Linked DNA regions of Homo sapiens: region 2 is linked to region 1. The links come from fine-mapping of genetic effects on gene expression. A gene starts in region 1. The other region holds a variant in brackets. All regions are shown on one strand. Distances are from middle to middle. Region 1 holds the start of MOB3B (MOB kinase activator 3B). Region 2 overlaps MOB3B (MOB kinase activator 3B).

Region 1 (5,321 bases):
TAAGGAGATCCAAAAACCTTTTTTTCTATATTTGCAATGCAAGGCAGTTGGGAATTAATGACTGATTTGTTGGTGAGGGCAGTGGGCATTGATCACAAAAGCAGTAAAGCTGTGTTTCTCAAAGAGAGAAAGTCTCTTTGAGATCTTCATTATTTTACTATTTAGAAGAGAAAGGGGCGTTATATCACGTTGGAAGCATCCATGAGTCACTAGTCTCTTCTCTATCTTTCTATGCCTTTCTGTATTAATTACTTTGAAAGCACAACATTCCAAACCCATTGAGCACACAGTGGTCTGATTTCTCCACTTGTGAAAGGTGCTAAAGTCTCACTGTAGGATTAATTTGGGGGTCCAGGCTATGGGCTTGTAGATATGACTACCTTAGACTTTGGTTCTCCTGGCAACTAACCCTTTTTGGATCGTATCTAAGTTGACCTGTTTCACAGTGAGAGAACTCCTCTCCATTACTCAGAATACTGAGGCAGATCACAAGTGTACCACACCTGGCTAATGTTAAGCCAGACAGAAACATCAGGCTCATCTCTTGAGAAGAAGGGTCGCTTATTAAGGATACAAACTATTTTTTTTTTTTTTTTTTGAGACAGGGTCTCATTGCCCAGGTTAGAGTGCAGTGGTGCAATCATAGCTCACTGCAGCCTCAACCACATGGGTATTTTTAAATAAGAAAAAAATACCATCTGATAGATATGAAGGAGCATTGGGTCACTATAAACAAAACAGATTCTAAGAGCAGGAAGAAAGAGTACAGTCTCTTTTCAATAATTTTTTTTTAAACTTGGGAAAGAACACTCACTCTATTCCTATAGACCAGAAAGCAGATAATTGTCCATTATGATTCCACATGACACTATCTTGTTCAGCTGTCACTGAAACAACTTTGAACACTGTCATATGTTCTTCCCAGCTCCTGAACTCTGACCTTTTTATGCCTTAGTTCCACTTTCACAAAAAGGGATTGATGTAATGTGCATTTCAGAGGAAACGACTATAGACATTTAGTGTCATTATAAATGTTGAGAAGTATGCTGGCAGAAATTATGCCTTAAGATCATATATGGATTCTTGTATGGTTTGAAATTGCTTAAAAGATATATATGATCTCTAAAATGTGTGTGTATATATATATGATGTCTTCTTATATATCTATATGTGATATATTTATATATATATAAATCTGTGTATATCACATATATAAATTTGCTGTTATTTGAATTGCCATTACCTCAGTGCTTAGGGGAAGCCATGCACGTTTGTTTCTTTTCAGTACCCAGAGTTAATTAACATAAGTTATCACAGAAGCTCCCATAAGCATTGAGACAATTTCTCTATACCTGTGACTATTTAAGGTTTTGAAAACAAAACAGAAGCAGGTAAGGAGGAAGTACGCTTTACTATTGAAGATTTATTAGGTACACATTTAGATTTGTGAACTCACATTGCTTAGGATGAAAGGGACTCTTGAGGATGTCTGCTGTTTGTTAGTGAACTGCCTGTAACAATTACAATTAGCACACACATGAGCACAATGAACTGGGTAGTCAGACTCAGCCAAAATGAATAGAAATAGCCTCTTACCAAATTTACTTTGAGTAGCCCTTGGACTCTGAGCACTGCTGCCCAGAGCAATATGACTGTAGGTCCAAGTTTGTCAATGACTATGCAAATGTGCTTTCTTCGCTTTTACTCTATTGTCATCTGTCTATTACAATGTTGCTATGGTGACACCTTTCCAATATCCCTGTGCTTCTTTGGTATCCTCTAAGGGGAAGCTGTAATGAAGTGGCTTGGCAAAAGAATCCTCTTGGAATTTTTTTTTTTTCATATGCTACTGAAAACCAGCATGATTTTCCTCTTATGGGAAATGTATAAAGTATGAGTTGGAAATGATGGAAATTAATCTGTACTGACTTGGGCAAGGAATGTGAATGTTATTCATTCTGTTCCAAACTACCTGAAAATATTCTCTTTCTGTTCCTACTTTCCAGGAGATAACATCTTAAGGGACACTGAAGCTTGTGCGTGTGTGAGTAGAACACGTGCTGGGGGCTCTTGAGCTCATGAGGGAGGGGCTACATGTCGGTGGGGTGATAACTGTATGCTGGAAACAATGATAGGTGGTGACCCTGGAGCACTTACCATGTGACAGGTGTTATGCTAAGCATGTTGTATGCATTCCTTCATTGAATGACAGCTACCTATATTATCCTCATTTTATAAGATGAGGTAACAGAGCTTCAGAAAGGTTAGACTCAGCTGCTATGGGTCTGTCTGACTCTGGTGTTCTTCCTCTTAAAAACTGGGGCACTTTGGAAATGAGATTCCTCGGTGATGAACAGAAATATTGCTTAGCGGCTGTATTTTTGTATCTGGCAGTTTTCCCATATTTGAGTCTTATATTCACAATCGGTATCTTTACATTACACAAAAGTGACACAGAATTAGAGTCATTTAATCCAGGGTTGATATCATTAAGTCATGACTATTTATTAAATGTTTCTTACAATATCTGAGATGATATTGCAAAAGATGTAAGTGATTTTAGAAGTTCTCACTTCGTAGTTAGTTGCAGAAACCTCTTTTGGAGGAGGGATGTTTTCTCTATATATCCTAATTTCTACTTAATATATTTCCACACCTCTTTGAAGTGTGTAGTAAGAATGGTAAAATGCAGTACTTCGTCATTTGGTACAGTTCAATCAATATGCATTAAGATGTGATCATATGGGTAATAGAAAAATGTGAAAGATCCAATTCTTTTTCTCCAGAAGGCAGGAAGCTCATATTTGATTTCTGTTACTATAAACTATAAAAACGTTTCAAATGTAGTTTACCCGTAACCATCACCCTGCAAGGGTGATATTGCTCCCCGCCAATTTACGGAGGAGAATACTGAGGCTTTAAGGTTGTAGATAGACCAAGACCACACAAGTAGAGAGTGGCGGGCTGTGGGTTGAGCTTTAAAATCCAGGTTCATCCATGACTCCCAGTGTGTTCTAGTAAATCCACTAGAATCTGAGTATTTTCCAATGATTTATGCTCCGCTCTGTGTCAGGCAGTTCATGGTATTTTTCAACAATCAGAAAATCCTGGGGAAGGCAAACTGTTTCCCCCTCTCTAGGTGCCTTGGAAGTGGCCGTTGTGGACCCAGAGATCATCCTTTCTGATCTGACACCTTCTTCACTGCCCTGGCCCAGTGTCTTTTCTGCAAGGCTGGAAGCCCCCTTAGACTGGTCATGTCCCATCTCTTTCCGGAGGGAAGATGATCCCAAAGACGACTTTTCTCTCCACGGTGCTGCCATACCGCAGGCGGCCGCCAGGGGTCCCCGCTCGGCGTCCCCGCGAGACAGTCGAGCCCCGGCCGGCTGCGCGGCGCGCTGGGTGCATGAGGGGGCTGCTCCGGAGCGACGGCGGCTGCAGCTGGAGCCAGGCGCTCGCCCGTCCGCCGGTTGGCTCGCCGGGACCTCGCGCACCGGCGGCAGAGTCCCTTGCGTGGATTGGCAAGCGACGCCCCACCTGCCCCGAGCTCACCATTTTCTTTCGCGCTGGCTGCAGCTGACCCGGCGAAGGGAGCCGACCGGGCCCTGGGCTGGAGGTAAAACCCCACGGTGAGTAAGAACCCGCTCCAAGCTAGGGGAGGCGGCGCAGCCCGGTGGCTGCTCGCTCCCGATCTCGCCCGGGCGGGCGGCGAGGTTTGGGGCGCACCTGGGCGCGGGTGCAAGAAGGTGCGGGAGGCGGCGGACCGGTCTTCTGCCCGCCGGCCACGGGCTTCCGGGGCTGGAGTCCTCTTCAGACCCCTGCCGGCGCCTGGGTTTCTGGCCGGCTCCTCGTGTGCACTTCCCGGCAGGAACAAGGGTCGCCCACTTTCCACCCCGGGATCTTGATTTGTCCTTGATTTGAAAAGATATAAATCAATAAGATCGTCCTTCTTTCGGGGTGCAAGACTCCGAGCCCATCCCCAGCCGCGGACGCCTGCAGGGTGCGTGTTGGGCTGTGGGTGGCGGGAAGACAAACTTTTACAAAAGTGCGCCTGGGCTGGGGGACAACGCTTGGGCGTCCTGATCCTGAGGGAGGAGTCTCGGCTTGGGGCAGCGTAGGGGAAGTCCGCACCGTCAGCCAGGTCGCCCCCGGGGCTGACGATGCCTCACGGAGGTGGGGAGCGTGTAAAGGCCGTACAAATCGCGCTTAACTTTGGGGCCAACAACTGTCAAACATCTGGAATCCCAGCCCCTCCCTTTCCCTGAACTGGGGAAGAAGGTGAAAACCCTTCAAGTTTTCTTTGATTGCCCCTTCCCACCTTCAGACCCCTGCTGGGAGGGTAAAGCGCCGACCCCTGGTGCCTGGCAAGTACCAGAGACTCTAAATCTCTCGGGATCCCCCCCCTCGCGCTCTTTCCTGACCCTCTCCCCTAACCCTCCCCACAGAGATCTCTCTACGCAGCCGACTGAGATCGTGGCGAATGGCCTTTTGTTTCTCCGCGTTTCCCCTATTGTTTGCCTTTCCAACATCTGGCGGGGCTTGGGGAGAGAAGGAAGCCCCTCTGGTCCCCCTCCCCGGCCCCCACGCCAGCTCCGGCAGGGGATCCCAGCTGGGAAAGTGGAGGAGCCCGACCCCAGCGAGGCCGCCCCACCCCGCCCTTGTGGTTAGAGGGCGGAGGGAAAGTTGTTCCTTCCCCGCCTCCGCTGCTGCCTGTGGCCCAGGGCGCATTTCTCAGATCTCAGCCCAGGCGCGCCGCAAAGGCTCAAATCCGAGAAGGTGCTGCTTTCGAGACAGTGGAAGCGCGTTCCGCCCCAATCCAGAGCGTCCAGTGGTTGGTTCCAGAGGATTTCAATCTCTAGCCAAAGGCGTTGGGGCTGGGCCGCTGCTAGGGCAGTGGGAGGGGATCGGGGCACCTTTGGTAGGCGGAAAGCTGAGATTCTGGGGTCCACAAGTTTCCAAGGGCGGGAGGGCAGGCTAGTCGCCAAAAAGAGAACGAAGATGCAAATAACGAGGAAGCCTTATGACGTTGCCTGGAAATAGTAGTGTGGTGGTTCACTCCGGAATGAACGTGGAGTTCTGGCTTTGAGTACCGCTCCAAGTTTAAATCCCAAGTCCCCTTTCTTCATTGTAGAAAAAGAGGACTCAGACGACGCAACACAGATACGGCTAGAGCACAGTTCCTGCTTCCACGTCCCAGAGAACAAGTGGCTTAGGATGGTCCCGAGTTCCCCTGTGGGTGCGCTTGTTGGGTTGCAGGCGGCCCTGTTTCCCTGCACAAGTCAGATGCTTACACATTGTGTTCATTCTTAGTGTGGATTATTGAT
Region 2 (5,380 bases), 47 kb after region 1:
CATTACAGAAAACCCAGCCTAGTGTACCAAGTGCTCAAGAAATATTGATTGAACAAATTATAGATTTTTGACTCTCTTTGTAAAAAGTCTTGAATAGTTCAGCTCAGTGAGTTTGCACTTATGTGGTTAGCAATAGTGTTGGTGAGTTTTATACATACAGGACTTAACATCATTAGATAGTGTTTTGTTTCTGCCATTTTTTTCCTATTACAAAAGGAATATAATCTCAATGCCTTTAACTCAATAAACACAGAAGAGAACAAGGGGGAAAAATTGATATCATGGTAATTCTGCTGTTGACATTTTGTAGAGCTGTGTTTTAAAGAAGAGTAATTTTCCATGAGGGTAGAGAGGGAAGAGAATGTAGGATGTAAAATCAGTTTGAGATGGTCCACACAAAAGTCGATATGAAAGTGAAATGTAAAGCAGGAGCCATTGGAGTGCAAAGAAAGGGGCTAATATTGGAGACATTCCAGAGACAGAATCAGTGAGATTTGCCCAAGGCAATGCTGACATTTGGGGCTTTGTGATTGGGAGACAGATGTAGCTCTTAACAGAAATAGTGGTGTTGGAGAGGCCTTGAGTCCTAGAAAGGAAATAGGCTTTAGAGCCAGCAGAGGTGGGTTTCAGTTCTGGTTCTGCAAGCAAGTCACCTAACCTCAGTGAACCCATTTCCTTCCTGTGTAAAATGAGCTCCACAGTCCCTACCTTGCCAGGTTGTTGTTGGGTAAGTTACTTAACCTTTCTCAGCTTCTTTATCTGTTAAGATAGGAATAATAACAGTACTTACCTCATGGGTTGTTTCGAGGATTAAATGAGTTAATATTGTAGAATAAGTGATATATAGAAGTATTTGCTATGATCCTTGTTGTTATTGATATATTATCAATATATGGACTGGATGCCCTTGAGACATCCAGCTGAAACTGTCCATCTGGCCACGCAAAACACTTGTCTCGAACTTGGATCCGTGGTCTGTTTAAAAATACTGGCAAGGCCAATTTTCCGGGGTGGTTCATGTGTTGTCAGGGTTAAAGGCTGGGAGTCAAGTTTCCATTAACTGAGGTATAATGGTCACTGTACTCCATGTCCCAGAGTCCCCTTCTAAAGTGGATACCTCAACCTGACTGTGTGGATGTAGTTTACTAGCTGGTACCCTGGTGAGCTCATGCCTGGGTTTGACAGCCTGCAGAAAAAGCCTGAGGATGCATGGAACGCTGAGTTCTCAGGGCAGGGTAGAGGAGGCCGGGGGTCGGGGGGTTGATTTGTGCAAGCACCAAACCCACAGGGCAGGTGCAAGGCTCAGGAGGTGGGCAGACATGAAATGCACAGGAACAAGCAAACAGAAGGGAATTATCCTGGGACTGCTATTCATGAAGCCTTTATGGTGGCCCTTTAATGTGGATAGGTTAAAGTGACTCGAAGGTTGAAGGCTAACAAAATATTTTCAAATTCTTTATGCTTTTTATTTAAAGTAAAAATAAATGAAAAATAATGCACTTCAGTTTGCTCTCTTCTTACTGCCTCCCACTCATCAGTTTTGCACAGGGAGAAATGTCCACTTGCCATGGCTTCTTACTCCCGCCTGAGTTTTTTGTTTTGTTTTTAGCATAGACCCATTATAACTGAAAGCAAACAGCCCACCTTCTCAACCCCCTACATGGCAGACAGGGGGCTGCTGTGGAAATGCTGGGAGACCTTGTTAGATCAGTGTCTTCTGTGATGGCTGTTTATTATCTCTTCCCGTTTTTCTCTGAGTTAATGGGATCCTCTGAATGGGAGCCCTTAGAAAGACTCCTGATCACTTCTATGTTCAACTCACCCTCAGCTCCAGACAACTGTGATAGGACCTGCATTTTGAGAAGAGCATATATTATGAAATGCAGGTAACAATTCTCACTTGGGGCATCCCTGCCCCTCAAAGATGCAGGAAGAACTTGGCCTGAACCCCAATGCTTGGCATCATAAGCTCGTTATGGGCCCTCACCCTGCCCTGGCACTCCTTAGTGGCTCTGTCACCTGGACTCAAACCCTTATCCCCTACAAGAAATCCAGTGGAAAGCAGCATTTTCCAGAGTCTGTAGCTTTTTTGAAGATTTCATTCATGAAGGGCGAGCAGCAGCAAATGGACCACTCAGCTGTGACACACCCTCTGCCATTTCCCCCTACGTCGCTTCACATCCTATTAATACCAGCTCTCTTTGCACCCTCCTGCTGTACATGGGACCAGGTCTTTTAAGATTTTCTGAGGCCTTAGTTCCTCTTCTGCCCACGAGCATACCAAACATAACAACGTGCACCCACACCTCACATTAAATATAATCTGTGCAGCAAGCGATGAAAAGCACCTTTATAATTGGGCCTTTGAAATCATTTGACTGTAAGT[A/C]TGTCATTCAATTTATGATTAGCTCTGTTTTCTCAGGAGCTATGCAGTCAAGAATTCTTAAAAAGAAAGTCAGCTTAACTTACTAATTGTTTTCATGCACAAGAAAATATTTTTAAAATATTTTGAAACAAAATGTTATTGAAATTTGTTAGATTTAACAATGAAAGAAGTACCATATATTGGCCGGGCGCGGTGGCTCACGCCTGTAATCCCAGCACTTTGGGAGGCCGAGGCGGGCGGATCACAAAGTCAGGAGATCAAGATCATTCTGGCTAACACGGTGAAACCCCGTTTCTATTAAAAATACAAAAAATTAGCCAGGTGTGGCAGCGGGCGCCTGTAGTCCCAGCTACTCGGGAGGCTGAGGCGGGAGAATGGCGTGAACCCGGGAGGCGGAGCTTGCAGTGAGCCAAGATGGCGCCACTACACTCCAGCCTGGGCGACAGAGCAAGACTCCGTCTCAAAAAAAAAAAAAAAAAAAAAAAAAGTACCGTATATTTGTAGACATTTACTTAAACATTTGGTAATTGTCATGTTTATCTCTTTGTATTTTGGAAACAATTATCTCTTTTAAGCCCTCAAATATGTATGTGCACCTCTTAAAGATATTAAACTGCAAGCGCTGTAGCTATGTTTTCCAGTGGATAAGACAGGTTAGCAGGAGGCCTGTTCAAGGCAAGATACTCTAGGAAAAGAGTCCAGTCCTTATCCTGGCTTCATTTCTCTCCAGAAGCAGCCTTATCAGGCCAACCCATTTTCCCCATGTGCCTTCTGATGAATACAATTTTCTTTGTCTCATTACACAAATTTTTGCAGAGTACAACCAAACTTAAAAACGGCCATGTGGTGCATTCCTTATACAGGGATTTTGTCAGGAACCTCAAGCAACTTTTAGAGAATGCTTCACTTGGAAAGGGTTTGGTGGGAAGTACAGATGGGGAGATAAAGACATCTGGGCAGGCCACCAGCACGGGCAATGGTGTAGAGGCAGAGGTTGAGATGCAACTGAGCCAGGTCTGAAAAGCCTTGGAAGCCACACTGAACATTTGAGACCTTACCTCATAGTAAGGTCTATGGGGAAGAACTGACATTCCAGGAACTGGCTCAAAGAGTAACTTAAGGTGAATGTTGTGGATTTTTCTTTTCCTTTCTCTTCTTCCTCCTCTCCATTCTTTTAGGCACAGAGCATTCCTTTTAACATTGCCGTTTTTCTTAATAGCTAGATAAGCCCAGGTATCCAGTAAGCCCCCAAAGGAGACTTGGTGTAAGCAGACCTGGTGGAACAAACATCCAGACCATCCAGACATTATTATGAGTTTTGAGTGGCCAGTGGGGCTCCATGTGCTTTATGTTTGGATTATTTAATGTTTTTCCCGTCCTTTAATGTTAGGTCTCTTCAGCCAAATGATAAGGTTGAACAGGGCGGAAATTACAGGGTGGGGATCACAGTGGCGTTTTAGCATAAGCCTTCGCTTCCATTCATGTTTCAGTGGTTTGAAAGAGTTGTTTTTTTATTCCACCCTTTTGCTTTATGTTTTTTTGTTTTTGCATTTTATTTACCGTGCTTTTCGTTCATTTGTTTCATCTTATCTCTTTTCTTCCCTCCACTGGATCAATAGCATTTTATTTCCTTTTTTCAGTGTTTGCTTTTTAAAAAAAAATTCATGGCTGATGTTTAAAATTCTGATTTCCCATAAAACTCCGAGTTCCCAGGTTTTTGAAAGTTAACATATGTGACATTGGACTGTATTCCCACATGGCAACGATCTGTAAGAACTACCTTCCTTAGGCTGGGCGCGGTGGCTCACGCCTGTAATCCTTGCACTTTGGGAGGCCGAGGCGGGCAGATCATGAGGTCAGGAGATCGAGACCATCCTGGCTAACACAGTGAAACCCCATCTCTACTAAAAATACAAAAAATTAGCTGGGCATGGTGGCGGGCGCCTGTAGTCCCAGCTACTTGGGAGGCTGAGGCAGGAGAGTGGCATAAACCTGGGAGGCGGAGCTTGCAGTGAGCCGAGATCACGCCACTGTACTCCTGCACTCCAGCCTGGGCGACAGAGCTAGACTCCGTCTCAAAAAAAAAAAAAAACAAAAAAAACAAAAAAAAAAAAACTACCTTCCTTAGACAGGTACACGCTTACCAGTTTACCCCAGGCGCCACCACACTCTATTGTCTCCCTGACCCTGAGGAGACATCAGTTGTGGTTATTTGGGTTGTTGCTTTCCTACACCTGGCTGTTTACTCAGTTATGTGACCTACTCTGCCCCAGTAAGCATTTCAGTTTGCCATCATCTTTTAGCTGGAGCATTTAGTTGATTTACATTTGTTATAATTAACTGTACCGATATATTTTAGTCCATATCTGCTGGAGTCTTTTGTGCTGTTTGTTGCACAGTTTCTATGTTTCTTCTCGCCTTTTTTGTCTTTTTATGGATGAGCGAGTTCATTGTCTCACTCTGTTTTTTCTTCTGCACCACTCTGAAAGGCATACTGTTTTATTCTTTCAGAGATTAGCCTAGTAATTATAGCATGCGTCTTTAACTTACTAAATTCTAAAGTGATCAATAGTTTTACCTTCCTTTGAATAACACCCTTCTTATTTATCCCTCCCCGCAATTCTTACACTAGTCTTTTGAGTATTTTAAGTCTATATAATTTTTCAAACTCCACAAGGCATCGTTTCTTTTATTCTTTTATAGAGTCAGTGCTTGTATTGATTTACTTATATATTTATCATTTTCTGTTCTCTTAATTCTTTCTTATATTCTTACATCCTTAAAATTCCTTCTTTTTTTCATATTTTGTCTGTATATGTCTCATTTGAGTATTCTTTTTCCCCCTTTCCTTTCTTCTACTACTTTAGAAGTTATACAATTCTGCCTAGGCACGGTGGCTCACGCCTGTAATCCCAGCACTTTGGAAGGCCCAGGCAGGCAGATCAAGAGATCAAGACCATCCTGGCCAACATGGTGAAACCCTGTCTCTACTAA

Evidence for each region. PIP is the estimated chance that this variant, and not a neighbour inherited with it, causes the effect. A credible set is the group of variants that fine-mapping cannot tell apart.
Region 2: its variant is the best candidate, but not a certain one, in a credible set for the expression of MOB3B in whole blood (TOPMed, PIP 0.62).

The regions. Positions count from the first base shown.
Region 1 is chr9:27,527,860-27,533,180 of GRCh38, reverse strand. MOB3B (MOB kinase activator 3B) reads left to right here and starts at 3,367. Exons shown (of 4, transcript NM_024761.5): 1 at 3,367-3,626. LOC124902107 (dapper homolog 3-like) reads right to left here and starts at 4,725. Exons shown (of 2, transcript XM_047424279.1): 1 at 4,455-4,725; 2 at 2,481-4,161. The coding sequence starts at 4,725. The coding sequence ends at 3,173. RefSeq lists silencers at 3,320-3,619, 4,590-4,639.
Region 2 is chr9:27,480,619-27,485,998 of GRCh38, reverse strand. All of the region lies in intron 1 of MOB3B (MOB kinase activator 3B), which reads left to right. Among named protein-coding and RNA genes, the nearest start is that of IFNK, 41 kb to the left of the region's middle. RefSeq lists a silencer at 620-749. The variant A/C (reference allele first, on the strand shown) is at 2,387.